Linked DNA regions of Homo sapiens. The protein of the gene in region 2 interacts with the protein of the main gene of each other region in a biochemical or structural test. Each region holds a gene or a part of one and is shown on either strand. Other genes may lie near its edges.

Evidence for each region.
Region 1: the proteins of PIK3R5 (region 2) and SNX9 form a complex in vitro, tested with the Homo sapiens proteins (one study listed by BioGRID).

The regions. Positions count from the first base shown.
Region 1 is NC_000006.12:157,902,212-157,910,591, forward strand, and holds part of SNX9 (sorting nexin-9), read left to right. Parts: intron 1-3,916; coding exon 3,917-4,001; intron 4,002-7,453; coding exon 7,454-7,579; intron 7,580-7,696; coding exon 7,697-7,814; intron 7,815-8,380. UniProt on the Homo sapiens protein: Involved in endocytosis and intracellular vesicle trafficking, both during interphase and at the end of mitosis. Required for efficient progress through mitosis and cytokinesis. Required for normal formation of the cleavage furrow at the end of mitosis.
Region 2 is NC_000017.11:8,962,109-8,970,663, reverse strand, and holds the start of PIK3R5 (phosphoinositide 3-kinase regulatory subunit 5), read left to right. Parts: upstream 1-4,956; 5' UTR 4,957-5,068; intron 5,069-8,555. UniProt on the Homo sapiens protein: Regulatory subunit of the PI3K gamma complex. Required for recruitment of the catalytic subunit to the plasma membrane via interaction with beta-gamma G protein dimers. Required for G protein-mediated activation of PIK3CG.

The DNA.
Region 1 (8,380 bases), on a different chromosome or scaffold from region 2:
TAAAAAAAAAAAAGGATTTTTGATTTACAAGGTTAATAAGTGAAATATTTATTTTATTTAATGATTTCCCAAACTGTTTTCATTACTTCTAGCTTTATCAATTTATGACATATTAAGGTTTCATTGCTAATGTCACAGGAAAGCTAAAAAGAATAATAATAACAACTCTCTTTTAAATGTTTTACTGTTTTGTTAATCACTTGCCATGTGCCAGGCATTGTGCAGAGAGGTTTGTATCATTCGCATGTAGCCCTCATATCCCTTTGTGGTACATAAAACCCCTGTTTTACTGCAGGCAAACTGATGCCCAGAGAGACGCATCGAGTGTTCCAGTCAGGAAGCCAGGCCCTCAGGCGCCAAAGCACGTGTTTCAGCTCCTGTGCCTAAAAACGTGGTCCGGAGCTTTGTGTTAGCTTAGGTTTCTCTTAGATTTAAAACAAAAAAAAAAGTGTTGTGTTTTATTTTTTTGTTTTGAGACAGGCGTCTCGCTCTGTCACCCAGGCTGAAGTGCAGTGGTGCGATCTTGGTTCACTGCAACCCCAACGTCCCGGGTTCAAGCAATTCTCGTGCCTCAGCCACCTGAGTAGCTGGGATTACAAACATGTGCCACCGCGCCCAGCTAATTTTTGTATTTTTAGTAGAGACGAGGTTTTACCACGTTGGCCAGGCTGGTCTCAAGCTCCTGGTCTCAAGTGATCCGCCCGCCTCTACCTCCCAAAGTGCTGGGATTACAGGCTTGAGCCACCACACCTAGCCAAAAAAAAAAAGTTTTTAACAGTACTTGTAGATACCCTACTTAACAGGAAAGCATGTGGGCACCAGTGACCACTGTAGGATTCTTTGGAGAGACCTAAATAAGGCTGTAGTCTATGCCAGTGTAGCTTGAAGGAGATATATTAGTAATTTATGACTTCCATCAGAATTTTCAAGTACTCCTTCCAGCAGTTATGTTTAGTTTATTTTTTGAAATTACTAATACTTTTTCCCAATATTCCAATTCCATGATTCAAGGCAGATATCAAAGAATGTTAATCTGTGTCTGGAAAAATTAAAAACATAACATTTGACATATATTTAGACATCAAGATCTAGGTCTAGATCTAGTTTAATAAGTCCTACAAGTTCTCCAAAGTATATTTAAATAGCTTCAGTGATTAAATGAGTTCTCTTTTGACTGCACACTTTTGCTGCCTCTTACCCAGTTTCTTCCATTATATATTTTCCTGCTCAATTGCATGCATAATAAAGTGAATAATTCTCTGTCTTGTTAGTCAACTGTGTCTTGTTTCAGAGTCAAATTTGAAGTTTTCAGTCATGGTCAGTAGTGATGTGCATCATTGTCAGCTGTTCTTTAAATGTGAATATAAAGTATATTGAAAATTCATATAAATTAGCCCCATTTTGAAAACGAAGGAAGCAGAGACTGAGAAAAATGAGTGGCCACGTTTTCATGGCTGATGAGTGAGGTTCCAGCTCATGCCTGGGGGTCTCTGACTCTGGTTTTTGGTGCTCTCCTCTGCTCCACACTTGCTCTCTGATTTGCTTATAACCTTAAGGCAAGTTTCGTGACCTGTTGGAACCTCAGTTTCTTCATCTCGAAAGCAAGGAGGTTGGCTTTAAGAATTCTTTCTGCTCTAAAATATCATTCCAGGCTGAAACCACATTAAAGCAGTCCTAACTTGAACCTGTGCCTCTGAGGCATCTCTGTCTCTCTGTAGTGCTGTGAACGATTTAACACCCTGTGTATTTGTATTTAACTAAACTGTATAAATGAGTCACTTAAACTTAAAACAATTATAAAAAATGTTTTTAAGTATTAACACTTTTTCAGCAATTAATCCATTTTATATGACAGCTGTATTCTAGTCATGGAACATAAATCTTATACTAGAAAAAGAGATCTGAAATTAAATATACTTGAGCACTATAAGAATTCACCTTGGGCCAGGTGCAGTGCCTCATGTCTGTAATCCTAGCACTTTGGGAGGCCGAGGCAGGCAGATCACGAGGTCAGGAATTCGAGACCAGCCTGGCCAACATGGTGAAACCTCAATCTGTACCAAAAATATAAAAAAGTAGCTGGGCGTGGTGGCACGCCTGTAATCCTAGCTACTTGGAAGGCTCAGGCAGGAGAATCGCTTGAACCCGGGAGACGGAGGTTGCAGTGAGCCGAGATGGCACCACTGCACTCCAGCTTGGGCGACACAGAGACTCTGTCTCCAAAAAAAAAATAAAAGGCATCTTGATGATGCTGAAATAATTAATACATTGCTGTCCTCAAATTTTTCTGTGGTCCATAACAGTGCCCAAAAATTGAAATGCTTACAAGCTGGTCAAGGAGTTGTCATGATATATAATCCCCACAGAAGCGCACCTGTAGTCCCAGCTACTTGGGAGACTGAGGCAGGATAATCGCTTGAACCAGGAGGTGGAGGTTACAGTGAGCCGAGATCGCGCCACTGTACTCCAGCCTGGCGACAGAGTGAGACTCTGTCTCAAAAAAATAAATAAAATAGAGTAATTAATAAATAAAAGTGTTGCAGGTTAGCCTAATTCATTAAGCATTCAGTATGCTCCCAAAACTCCTCCAGGTCCTGAAAACACAAATGCTTCCTCTAAGTCCCTCTGGCTGCTGTAATAGGTAAATGGATAGCGGCAGTCAGGTGTGATGAATAGAATCACAAAATATGCTCAAAATGCCTAGGAAGACTCTACCTGCGGCTGCAGGGAGTACTTCCAAAGAGAGGATGACTTAGTTGCCAATGACTGAAATGTACTGAGTACATACTAGGTTCTTTACATAAATCTTTAATTCCCTTATCACCTTAGAAGGTAGGTCATTCTGGTCTCATTCTTCCACAAGGAGATTTCAGCCCCTAAGGCTACCTAAGTGTTGGAGTCAGAATTCAAACCCCATGCCATCCAGCTGCAGGACACATCTGGTCTCTTGTGTAAGCTGCGTTTTAAAGGAATGTCTAGAGAAAGGAGACTCAAGGGAAGTCAGCTGAGAATGCAGGAAAAGAAGACACGGGCCCCTGAGAGCATCACACTGGCCTTTGGCTTGGCACATGAATGAAAGTAGAAGCAATGCGACTGGAACTTCGTAGAAATAAGATTCCTTTTCCCATTGTAGATATTTTGCTTCCTTTTCTTCTGTTTACTAAAAGAAAAATTCTAAAACCCAAATTAATCTTGTCTTTTTCAGTAGCCCTTTGGATGGCTATGTTCTAGCTGTCCTCTAATTTCAGAAATGTCCTTTGGATATAGATGTGATTTCTGGAAGTAGTCAAGTTTATTTAAGTTTTTGAGTCTTAAGTGACCTCCCCCCCACCCCCTCCCCATAGCCAAATTTATTGATTACACTTTGGGTCTCTACTAAAGAGACTTGTTTTCCGCTGTCATGAACTGCTTCTGAAGGCAATTCCAAAAGAAACAAGCACATATGCTGATGAGCAGGACAGCCCCTTTGGGACAGTTGTGGCCTCTGGAGAGAGCCTGTTGAAAGGCAACTTTAATTTGGATGTAGAAATGCCAGCATGTGGCTATTGCCCCCTGTGGCCAACTCAGATTGGCGTGCTCACTACTCACTGCCCCAGGGAACTAGGGGGGCGTTTTTTCAGGTCTGCCCTTCACTCTGGGGTGACCGAATGTTTCAGACACAGTCAAGCAAATAGAGTGCCCGTAAACATCACACCTTCTGGAGTCAAACTGTTCTGTTTACCAGATCAAGCTTAATTAAATGCCTAATTGGCCATTGAACAATCTGATTACATTAGGTTTCATTTACCACAGTTTCCAGTTCTAGTGCACCCGAAAGACAGGACAAGGTTAAAACTGGTAAGTAAATGTAGACGAGAGTTGTAAAATTCTTACAAGGAAAGTCTTAAGACTGATGAACATTTATATTCATGATTAGATTTCCTGGATTTGCGAAACCTGGCACGGAACAGTATTTGTTGGCCAAACAACTAGCAAAACCCAAAGAGAAAATTCCCATCATTGTAAGTTTGTTTATTTTTGTTTGCTTTCTTTCTGATTAAGCTCTTTCTTATACCGTACTTTAAAGCTAAGCGAGTTATTCATCTTTTGGAAAGTATTTTTAAATATATTTAATGCCCCACATAACTGATAATATATGTTAGTGTTGTAGGAGTACTGAAGATAATTAACACAAATTAATGCCTGTCATTATATTGTTTATTCTTTATCTTTCAGACTTTTAGTATTGAACAAATATACTATTTTGATCATTTTTTTCTAAAGTGTCTTGAAGTGTATTTTACATAGTTTTTCTGCCAGCCCTATATGTTTAACTGATGAACTCAATTCAAATATTTATGTTTCTTCCCTTGTAAAGTACATGTATGTTATCAGAATAAGGTACCCTTTCAGATATATGGGTAATAGTGTTTTTGGTAATAGTGTTTTTTCCAGTAAACCAGCTGTCAAATTGAGATAAGGAGCTACCAAATGGAAGCTGGGAGTTAAAGACATCATTGAGAATATCTGTCTTAGAATTACTTGGTTATTGCATAATGTGACACAAGCCCTTCGGTTTCATTCCACATTTTGATTGGTGGTAGATTTTCTGTCTAGGTGATATTTAGTTGTAGATTCCCAAATGAAATTCTGGAAAAGAGAACTGTAGCTATCTTCTGATCCTATTGACTTAACCCTGTAACAATTAGATTGGGAACCTGAAGCCTTGAGTGTTCTCATCCTGGACTCAATCGAGGATGAGGAAACATCTGGTCTTATTCTGTAGTCTTTGGAAACTTGATAAAATTGCAGGAATAGTATTAGATTCTCTAATTACTTGTGCCTGCATGTTTGAAAAACTCCAAATCCTGGAAGCCTCCAAGCTGAAGAGCTGTAACCAAGAGCCCTTTTTATGCTTTTTCCCTCAAAGCAAATTTGGGATAATTAACTTCTGAGTAGTTATATTAAAGATTTTTTTTTCCTGTTTTCTCTGGACTTAATAAAAATTGAACATGTACCATTATTCTTTTCATGACATTTAAAACTCCTCAAAATCAAGAGCGCACAGCTCTGCCTCAGTTTTGTTTTTTTGTTTGTTTGTTTGTTTTTAAGACAGAGTCTCACTCTGTCACCCAGGCTGGAGTGCAGTGGTGTGATCTTGGCTCACTGCAACCTCTGCCTCCCGGGTTCAAGCAATTCTCCTGCCTCAGCCTCCCGAGTAGCTGGGATTACAGGCATGCACCACCACGCCTAGCTAATTTTTTTTGTATTTTATAGTAGAGACGGGGTTTCACCATATTGGCCAGGCTGGTCTTGAACTCCTGACCTTGTGATCCGCCCACATTGGCCTCCCAAAGTGCTGGGATTACAGGTATGAGCCACTGCGCCCGGCCTGCCTCACATTCTTAAAGGGGACTTTGTCCCAGGTTTGCAGTGGTGGTACAGAGCTAAGGGTTCCAGCCTTTCATTGACCGGCAAGTTTTAAGTAGAACTGCACCCATGCACCCAGTAGGCAGGTCTGCCTGTGTGGGCGTCTATACATGGAAGAAGCTGAGGAAAGCCACCGCGTCTTCAGGAGGCCCAGAGAAAGCAGAGACTAACTCTTTGCTCTAAAAGTGCAGTAACCTTGCCCACTCATGAAACAGAGCCCCGTGAAATTGGGCCTTAGCCAAGCACAGTTGCTGCTCTCGGCCCACTCACTGAGGGAGGTCCCGAAAGTCATCTCCTCTGCAGCTTTCAGCTAGTTTCTTGGATCTGGGCTCTCCCTGAGGGGGTTATAGTAATTGTTCTCAGAGATTTTAGTCTCTTTTTAAACTACTCTTATCCTTGGAGTAGGTCACCTTCCTGACCTAACAGCCTCTGAACTTTAATATCCCAATCCGCTTTTCCCATCTTCCTCTTAAAAAAAAAAATTAGGACTGGGTATACCTTTTTTTCCTTTTTATGTCTGTCTGGCCTTGCCTCTCTGAGGTCTCAGCCGAAACAAATCTCTCTTCCTTCAGCGCAATCTGTGTGATTTTTCTCATTTTCTTTTTACTTTCTTATGGTACTTTTTCAAGTCTGCAAGAATAAAACCTGTTCCATAAATTATTTCATTCTCCTTGAATCTCTGAATGAATCTCTGAGTGAATCTGCTTCCTGAATAGTGGTCCTTTTACAGTCCATGTGTTTGTTTTTTCATTCTCTTCTTGGATTATAACTCAATTATTTTTCATTTTCAAGCCAAGAAGATAGATAACATTCTCAGTATAATAAGGACTTCTATTGCTCTGAAATGTGTTTTGATAAGAGCTACTGTCCTGCAGTCTGAACCTCTAGAATCTGTCATTGTGATCAAAGTTTATGAAATGAATGAGGCAGAACCAACTTGAGACTATTGGTGACTCAGGTAGTGATTCCAGAAGCCTGTACATGAGCTCCAGCATCCAGGTTCCTCTGCAGCTGCCCCCATGGCCTTGGATGCTGTTTTAAATAAGATGAAAAAACCAGGTTTGGGACAGCAGACCTATTGTCACCTAGCAGTGCCTAGAAGAAATGATCCTCAGGCTCAAAACTTACACGAGGTCTCTACACCCCCACATAGAATTTAGCTGGTTTCCCTTCCTCACCTCCCACCACAACTAAAACCCCAGTGAGCTAGTGTAAGCCTCGCCTGAATTTGTGAACTTTTGCCCTAGTCACAGATAGAAGAGAAGGCCAGTGAGAAAAGAATGGAGGCCTACCCTCTTCAGGCAAGCCTTGCCCAGGTGGACGTGATACCCGGGGGTTGGAAGTGAGCCAGCCCACTGTGCTTAGGCACATAGCAGTCCACGGAAGAAAACAGCTAGCCTGGTTCTTGCTTTTAAGATGTAGTACCTCCCCCTCCCCCCACCTTGCCACTAGTAGTAAAACAATGACTATCAGGCTCTGGCCAATCTGATTAATCGTTTCTATGAGCCAGAACAATGCTACTCAAAGTATGGTCCACAGACCACTTGCCCATCTGAAAACTGCTTGTTCCTGATCCACCGTGAGATAGGTACAGTACATGAGAATATTTTGAAAACTTGAGGACAATTTGGTATTGTTGAAAAATCAAAATGTGTAATGTTATATTTCACCAAACTATTAGTCTGTGATAGATTCGAAATTTTTAAAAACTAGTCCTTCATCACGTGTAGCTTGAGACAGCTAGACTAGAAAGAAACATTGTCTTGTAACCAGCACTGTCCTTGGGAGAGGGAAGCTGGTGTCTCCTCTCCATGGGCTGAGCTACTCACGTGGGAGCAGAAGGGTTTCCCACAGGTGTGTTCTTTAAACATAATATCTAACAGGAACAGAAACCATTGAACCATTTATGTACCTTTCAAAGAGGAACAAGAATGACCCTCCAAAGGACTTCTCATTCTGAAAAGAATTACTTGCTGATTCACATCAATTGTATTTATTATTTTTCCATGTAACAAAATTACTTCTTTCTGGAACATTGGCATAGGTTGGAGATTATGGCCCAATGTGGGTTTATCCTACCTCTACTTTTGACTGTGTGGTAGCAGATCCCAGGAAAGGCTCCAAAATGTATGGTCTAAAGAGCTACATCGAATATCAGCTAACACCTACTGTAAGTATCCACGTTATCAAAAGCAGAATCATGTTTGGATCACTGATTGCAGCTTGCTTTTTTCTTCATTTTCTAGAGTTGGCATTGGTAACCTTTTCTCTTTCCCTTATTTTGTAGAACACTAATCGATCTGTAAACCACAGGTATAAGCACTTTGACTGGTTATATGAGCGTCTCCTGGTTAAGTTTGGGTCAGCCATTCCAATCCCTTCTCTTCCAGACAAACAAGTCACAGGTGAGTGTGTGTAATGCTAAACCCAGGATGACAAATAGAAAGACTCCAGTCAGATTATCTTCCTGTAAGTCAGTGATGGCATTTTCCATCCTGTAGAGCAGCAGGATGCAGGAGTTGGAAACAGTAATTAAATACAGCTATGAAGAGAGAACCATTGCATGTTGTACATCTATCTGGAAGTTGCCTAAACGTCTCACAAGAACGTTTAATGTGCAAATCACAGGTTTTGGTATGTGTCTGGAATTCCAGCAGTCATTGTCTTCATTGCTGTACCTTTTCTACAAAAGAAATGTGTACATTTAAAATATGTGAAAAATGACACCTGAAAAAATAGAAATAATTCAAATAGCCTAAAATGGAAATAAAAATGTATGACCCACATGATGCAAACAGGTTATGCAGATGAGCTGCATTATTTCATTAGATGAGTGAGCACTGGACAGAGAAGCCACAGAACTACTAAGTGTTAATGAAGGAAGAAGCTGCCAGGTTTTCTACTTATTTTGATTATTACCCTCTCCCTTTTCTTGTTTTTTAAAAGTGCCATTTTCTATTTATTTTGATTA
Region 2 (8,555 bases):
TACTTGTTTTTCTACAAATGAGAAGATACATGCATATTTTCTTATTTCTCTTTCTTTTTTACATGAAAGGTTAGCATACTATATTTTTCATGGTAGTATTTTTTAAAAGCATGGTAGAATTCTGTCCTTTAAAATTTGATAGAAGTCATCTATGTAACTACCAAGACATGGAGACTTTCAAGAGAGATGTTCTTTGATAATTTATACAATTCCATGGTTATTGGTCTATTCAGAGTGTATCTCTTCTTAAGTCAATTTTTGGTAATTCATGTCTTACCAGGAAAGTTAAGATATTGAGTAGAAGATGCAAATCTTTCTTTAGTTCAGAGAAAATTTCTTCTGCCATATATTTTATTTTCTCCTCTCTCTCCTTGTGGAATTACTGTTATACACATATTAGACCTCTATAGTCTAGCTATCACAGATCATCTTTTCTCTTCTGAATTCCAGGATAAATTTTCAAGCTTGAGTTCTGGGTCACACATTCAGCTTTCTTCGGTTCCCAATCTTCTGTTCATTGTTTCCATTGAGGTTTAAATTTAGCAAGCTAAAAATGTTTCCTAATTTCAGTTTGTAATTTCTTAATGATTCCTTGTAATTTCAGTTTGTAATTACATAATCCACTACACTTGCAAATACAATATCCTCCCAAATATTATTAAAAACATAAAAGAGAAAGATGTTTAATTTTTTTTCCTCTTCTTCTTGTGGAAATTTCATTTCAAAGGAAACTAATTTTCTCTGACCATGTTCCGTTCTGTTGAAAGTCTGAATCTTTTTGTGTTTTCATATCATTACTTTTTCTCTCTCTGTTTATTTTTACCAGGAGGGAGTCTATATTTATTCTGGAATAGAAGTTGAGGTGGTTCTCCTGATTATCATGAATAGTCAGTAAGCATTCAGTCAAATAAATAAGTGGAGAGAGGTATTTTAAGCAGAGAGGACAGAGAGAGGAAGGGCATGAAGATATAAAAGCCCAATGTCAGCCAGGCACAGTGGCTTGCACCTGTAATCCCAGCACTTTGGGAGGCCCGGGTGGGAGTATTGTTTAAGCCTAGGAGTTTGAGACCTACCTGGGCAACACAGCAAGACTCCATTTCTACCAAATTAATAATAATAATAATAATAATAATAATAATAATAATAATAATAATTAGCTAGGCATGCCTGAGGCAGGAGGATGGCTTGAGCCCAGGAATTTGAGGCTGCAGGGAGCATTGATCATGCCACTGCACTGGGTGACAGGAAGACCAATGTGGATTTTCTTTTCTCACATATTTTATGTACTGGGATATAATTTACAAAGAGCAGAATATGTAACTTTTAAGTGAAGATCTCACTAACTTGTGCATATGCAGAAACCATTTAACCACCATCAAGATAAAAACACCACCCCAGAAAGTTCACTCATGTCCACTTTCTGGCTAAATTGTTCCCTTCCCCCAAGATAACCATCATTCTGACTCCTATCACTATAAGTTAGTTTGCTGGTTCTTGAACTTCATATAAATGGAATCATGCACTATATTTTCTTTTGTGTCTGGCTTCTTTTGCTCAGCATCATTTTTGTGAGATTCACCTATGTGGACAAATGCATCAGTCATTTATTCCTTTTTACTGCTGAGTAGCATTCCAGTGTACGAATATCCCACAATTTAACAAAAAATGCATTCTACTATTAATGATATTTAGGGTGTTTCCAGTTTGGGGCTATTATAAATAAAGTTGCTACAGTCATTCATATATATGTTTCTGTGGGGATATATACATTCATTTATCTTGGATATATACCTAGGAGTGGAATTTCTAGGTCACAAGTAGATGTATATTTAACTTTATTAGATACTGCCAATCAGTTTCCCAAACTTGTTGTGCCGTGTTACACTCCTACAAGCAATATATGAGTGTTTCAGTTGCTCCACATCCTTGCCAACATTTGGTGTTTTCAGTATGAATTTTAGCTATTCTAATGACTGTAAAGTGGTAACTCATGGTTTAAGTTTGCATTTCCCCAAAGACTCATCATGTTAGCACCTTTTCGTGTGTTTATTGGCCATGCGCATATCTTTTTTTTGTTGAAGTGTCTGTTCAAGTCTTTTGCCCATTTTTAAATTGGATTCTTTGTCTTTACTACTTTTGAGTTGTGGGAGTTCTTTATATATTCTGGCTATAAGTTACTAGAAATCTTACTATCCACTGGTGGATAGTAATGATGTCAACTGAGATAGGGAAGGCAGGAGAAGGAGTTTGGGAGAAGATGAGGAATTTATTTTAGGTCATGGAGTAATTAAAAGGCTTTTGGATTGATTATCTAGGTATGGGTGTACAGAAAACACTTGGAATTACAGATCTGGAGCTCAAGAGAGAAGTCTGGGCGATAGTTTGGGAGGGATCAGTATGATGGGAATGGATGAGATTGCCCAGGGAGAAGAGAAGCAGCCTTATCTGAAATCTCAAGCATTGTAATGTTTAAGAGATGATGAAGAAATGAAGCCAGAAGAAGAAAACAGAAATCATGGTGAGAGGTGGAGGAGAAGCCAAGGAGGGGATTTTCAAGAAGGAGTGGTGCCAAATGCTGTAGTGAGGTAAGAAAATGAAACCATTGGAGTTGACATTTGGGGTTTCCCTGGTGGTCTCTGTTCAGAGAATTGAGGAATAAATGTAAGATGAGGAAGTGGAGGCAGGGGTAGACTCCTCTTTGAAAACATTAGGCAGTGAAAGGAAGGAGAGTGATTTCAAAGAGCCATAGATTTTAAAACAAAGCAACAAAGGAGTTGTAGAAAGAGGTACATAATCAGATGCTTAATGAGTGACAGAGGTACCTTTCAGAGTTTTTCCAGCAGCTTTGGGGAGGTGGGAAATGGAGAATGGATAGGTGTCAGGTGCTGATCAGATCTGTGACAGGGAGACGCAGACAGAACTCAGTGTTGACGGCGTGGCATAACATGCAGGCTCCACATCTGGGCCACAGCTGTAGGTGGAGAGGAGAATGCCTACTTCTGAGGGGATGTACGATGGGACCAAGTTGGCTTCTTGGGATGCTCAGAGCCCTAGGAGTGAGCACCAATGAGCCACTCTTTTGCAGTTTTCCTCCATTTTCAGAAGGCAGGCATCCCATAATTTCTCTGGCAGATTATTTGCCTTTCCAAGTGCTCTCCTAATCCAACATTTCCATCTGGCACACAGTGTCATTCTTGCTCCTGAATTCCTGATTCCAGAGCATTTCTGCCATTTTCTTCCTTTGCACAGTGTGTACCTTCCCTCTTCTCCTCTTCTTCCAAATGTCCATATTTTTGTGGTGGAAAAAGTGGGGACAGGGGAGACAGAAGACTGGAATCCTTATCAAGTCCTCTCTCAGCCCTTGGTGGCTCTGGTTCCTTCTCTGTGAAAGGGTGACGTGTGGGGAAGGGGTTGGGGATGAGGTAGGAGAGGGGGTCTGAGTTCCTTCCCACGTCTAACGATGGCTGGAACCAGGCCTCTGTGTTCAACCAAGGGTACTTTCTGTTTCTGTCCATTTGGGGAAGTTGCTTTTTCTTGGTATTTCGGGAGTCAGGAAAAGAAAAGTCATTGGTGTTCATATCTCTCAAAGCCTCAGGTAGGGCTGCGGCTTTTGACCAACAATAACGTATGACCATGACCTTGTGGCCGAGTTTGCACGCCTCTAACAGATATTATGACACAGTTCCATTCAATAGTGGAAGTGGAGATTTCAGCGTTGCCCTTTGTTAACCCACAAATGAAGTGCTACTCTTCCATTGTGAGGGCTGTCGGAGCAGTAGCCAACCTTCTTATCCCCATTTTTTAAACGAGGGAAAGGAGGCATAGGAAGCGCAGTGTCTTGTGGGATTCCCTGGGGAGTCCTTCCAACTCTTGGTAGAGCATCATCTGCAACGTCGTCTGGGGGAGAAAAGGGGGAGGCAAGAAGAGGGCCTTGACCCTGGAGGCAGGAACTCCCGCACACCCTCACTCCCTTCCCCAGGGGCTGGGGAAACCACTCAGGTGACAGTAGCCTTGGTGCCGGCCAGGGAGGGCGGGAAGTCCAGCCAGAGGCTGGAACAGCAGTGCTGAACGCCGGGACTGGCTGGTATTTCTATGAAGGTTCCTGCAGAAGGATGCGGGTCAAGGTGCCCGTCTGCACAGCAGTAGTGCAGGCATTTTAAGGGTTAAGGGCACCCAAAGAAAATAGAAGTAGGGGCCGGGCGCAGTGGCTCACGCCTGTAATCCCAGCACTTTGGGAAGCCGAGGCGGGCGGATCACGAGGTCAAGAGATCGAGACCATCCTGGCCAACATGGTGAAACCCCGTCTCTAGTAAAAATACAAAAAATTGGGCGTGGTGGCGCGCGCCTGTAGTCCCAGCTACCCGGGAGGCTGAGGCAGGAGAATCGCTTGAACCCGGGAGGCGGAGGTTGTGGGGAGTCAAGATCGTGCCACTGCACTCCAGCCTGGCGACAGAGCGAGACTCCATCTCAAAAAAAAAAAAAAAAAAAAGAAAGAAAATAGAAGTAGGAAGAGGAAGTGGGTCGCAGTGAGAGAAGGAAGCAGCTCGTCGGAGCTTCCTCTTTCTCGTCTTTCCCCTAAGCCCCTACCCCAGACCTGCCCCCCTGCTCCGCCCAGCCCTCCTGCGGGGCCAAAGCCGCGCTTCCGACGCGGGGGCCTAACCTCCCCTTACTCCTTGGGGGTCGCTGGTGCTCCGCGCTGGTGCCCCTCGGGCCACTGCCATGGACCGGCCAGGGTCTGCTTCTTCCGAGGGCTGGCGGGTCAGAGCCGGGGCTGCTTCTCAGACGCCTTGCGGCCTCGGGGGCGTGACCCAGAGGATGTGGGGCCGGGCGCGCACCTGGCTGACGCTGCCGGGCCGCCAGGTGGCTGGAGAGGCCGGCTCCGCGGTCAGCCCCGCCCCATTAGGCCCCGCCCCCTGACAGGCTCCGCCCCGCCCGCCGGAGGAGCCCAGGCTGGGCAGATGCTGCGGCTCGCCGCGCGGCTCCAGCTGGGGCGCGGTGGTCCCGACGGTCACCCGAATCGCAGGGAGTCGCCGCTGGAGAGGGGCTCGGCGCCCGGCGGGGACTGCAGGTGTGTGACTGGGCGGCCAGGGCGGATGCGGAGGGCACGCATGGGAGCTCCAGGCAGAGCTGGAGCAAGCTGGGGACCGTCGGGGAGAGTGGGCTCCGCGAGCAGCCGCCGCAGCCCGAGGGCTGGACAGATCCTGCTATCTTCCGGCCCCGTGGACCTGGCCCACCGCGGGGGCAGCGGGTCTGCAAACCTGCGCTCCAGATAACCCCAGAGACTTAAGGGGCGTCGCGGGGACCACTTATCGTTATCCGGGTAACCTCTGCTGGGCGGCTCTGCGCAGCTGTGTCCTCAGCCTCCTGCCTCTGACACAGGACGCCCTGTGTCGTAGGGTCAGGTCCCCTGCCCGCTCCAGCGGGGAACTGTCCGTGAGCGTGGGCATCAGGGCTCTTGTGCCGTCAGAACCTGGGAGTCATGGAAGTGCCCGCGTAAGGCGCCCTCCGTCGAGCCTCACTCAGCCTGCTAGTTAGCCAGCCTTGGGCCCAGACGCGGCTGCTGTCCTAGAGAACTGCACGCTTTCTGCTCTCAGAGGATCTGTGTTTACACACTGGACATCCCCGCGTGACTCGTGTGTGTGTGTGTGTGTGTGTGTGTGTGGGCATGCGCATGTGCGCGTGCTGGCCCATCCCGGCCTGGGGTAAATACACAAAAAGTTCAGGTCAGTAGGAGGAAGGAGATTGTTCAGAAGGAAAAGGAAGGCGAGGTTAAAGCAGCAGGATGTGGTATAAAGCGAGTTAACAAGACTCGGAGTAGAGAGGAGGGGTGGGTTTAGGCAGAATAAGGGCTAAAAGTAGGCCAAGCCTGCCTCCAAGGTCCTCTCTGGACTGACACCCTCGTTTTCCTTCTGTGTCTTCTCATCCACCCCACACTTTCCTTCCTGCCCTCAGGACCACCTGTAAGGCACTGGCTCCCAGAGCTGACTGCAGGTAGGGCTCTCTTGGAGCCAACCCTACAACGTGGCTTTCCAGGGATGGGATCTGGAATCTGTAGTTTTCAAAACTTTGAATGAGCTCCTTAAGTGATGATGCTGAAGCCGTTGCTTGGGAACCATGCATGATGTGGAAAAGAGACCCAAGTTCCAACCGGATCCAGCTGTGTGACCTGCAGCATCACACTGTCCCCCAACCCAGCCTCAGTCTCCTGATTCATAAAATGGGCTGTCATACTGACCCATAGAGCTGTGTGGAATTATTATTATTATTATTATTGAGACAGGGTCTTGCTCTGTCACTCAGGCTGGAGTGCAGTGGCGTGATCATGGCTCACTGCAGCCTTAAATTCCCAGGCTCAAGCAATCCTCCGCCTCCGCCTCCCAAGTAGCTGGGATTACAGGTCAGCACCACGGCGCCCAGCTAATTTTTGTATTTTTTGTAGAGGCAGGGTTTTGCCATGTTGCCCAGGTTGGTCCCAAATTCCTTGAGCTCAAGCGATCCGTCTACCTTGGCCTTCCAAAGTGCTGGGATTATAGACATGAGCCACTGTGCCTGGCCCAGTGTGGAAAATTAAGTGAGGCATGTATGATGAGAACGGCTGCACGTGGGAGATGCTCCGTGGATGTTTGTAGAACGCTGGCTTCCGTGTTTCCTCGTTGTGGCTGTGGTGGTGTGGGTCTTTGCCTGTGGACCCGTGGAAGACAAAGAAGACAGTTTTGGATGGTCAAGCTACTTTCTTGCTTCAGGGCTCCCTCCCCTGCTTTTTGAAGCCTCACAAACCAGGACTGTGAGGGCAGGAAGGCTTGGGGTCTTTGTGTGCTGAGCCTCATTAGGGTTTTAAGAACCTCCCTCCTTTCATCTCTAGCTTACGAGAGGGATGATTCATTATCTTCCCTCCTCAGGCTGCAGTAGAAGCAGACAGTCTCTGCCTCCCTGCTTGCCTTTCCTCCCTCCCATTCACTGTTGATTATTGCCCTCAAGAATAACAGGTTGCCCAGCTACTCGAGAAGCTTAAGTGGGAGGATTGCTTGACCCCAGGAGTTCGAGGCTGCAGTGAGCTATGATCGCTTCACTGCGCTATAGCCTGGCAGACACAGAGAGACCCTATCTCAAGCAAACAGACAAACAAAAAAAAAAAAAGAAGAAGAAGAAGAAGAATAGGTTGGATGCTAACTGGTGGCACTGGGTGACAAGAGCATTTGGGGTTGATGTTGGCATGAGGATGAGAAGGCAGGGGTGCAGGCTGCTCCATACCCCTGTGTTAGCCATCCATCAGGGGCCTGCTGGCTGAGGAGTGGGAGAGGAGGAGAGCCAGGATCCTTTTTGCCTGGGTAGCCTAGAGTTTGGAAGCCCCAGCTTGGGTTCCACTGAGCACTCAAGCTGTGCTGACTTGGCCTTTCTTCAAAGATGCTCATCCCAAGGGACTGAGCTGCGTGGCCCTGTGGGACCTCTGAGAACCAGAATGCCTGTTTGGCCTCAGCTGGTGAGCTAAAAGCCTGAACCAATGTGTTAAGAAAGAAAGCTGGCCAGGCATAGTGGTTCATGCCTATAATCCCAGCACTTTGGGAAGCCAAGGCTTTGAGGCCAGGAGTTCGAGGCTGCAGTGAGCTATGATCGTGTCACTGCATTCCAGCCTGGGCAACAGAGTGAGACCCTGTCTTTACAAAAACAAAAAATAAAATTTAAAAAACAGAGAAAGCTCCTGGAAGAAGAAGATAGAGTGATCCTTAACAAGTCAAGGGAGAGGTGTTTAATTTGATTTTTGAGCCTCAGATATAGATGGGGTGGGAGGAGAGAAAGGAAAGAGTACATCTGACTTCTGCCCAAAGGGAAGATGATACCCTCCCGTAGCAAACATATATTACATAGTAAAATATTTCATCAATTTGAAGATGTACATATTTTCACATTTTAGCACTGAATGTGCTAATTGTATGAATTTCACTGAAATCAAGGTGCATTTTACTGTTTATGGCATCTTCCAATTATAATAGGCAACAATATTTCTTCCTTATTGCCACACAAAATAACGGTGCATCTTACAATTGATGGCATCTTAGATTCTATTAAATACAGTGCACTTTTTATAGATTTGGGGGATGTGTTAGCGATACACAGGTCCACACAGAATTATGTTGTTCTCATAGCTTTCATACATTAATTTTTCCAGTAGCTCTACCTTCTAAGTATCAGAACTTTTCATTGTATTATGTTTTAAAAGAAATCTTTGTAAAGTATGTTGCTTGCATTTATAAATGTAGCATGTTGGATATGATTGAATAATTTCTTGAAATTTTCATCAAATGGTTCTGGCCTGCCATTCTCTTTTGTACCCTGTGTCTTTTTGTACATTCATGCTTCGTTCTCTTTCATCTTTCTCCCTGTCCTTTTCTCCTTTGGCTATGACTTCATGGTGTTGGGCACTGTGCTGAGTATGTCATGTCCTTTAATCTTCACAGTCACACTCTGAGGTAGCTACAATTATTGCCCCCATTTCACATATGAGAAAACCGAGGGCCAAGGCCACACATTTAGGTGGTGCCAGAGCTGGGCTGACT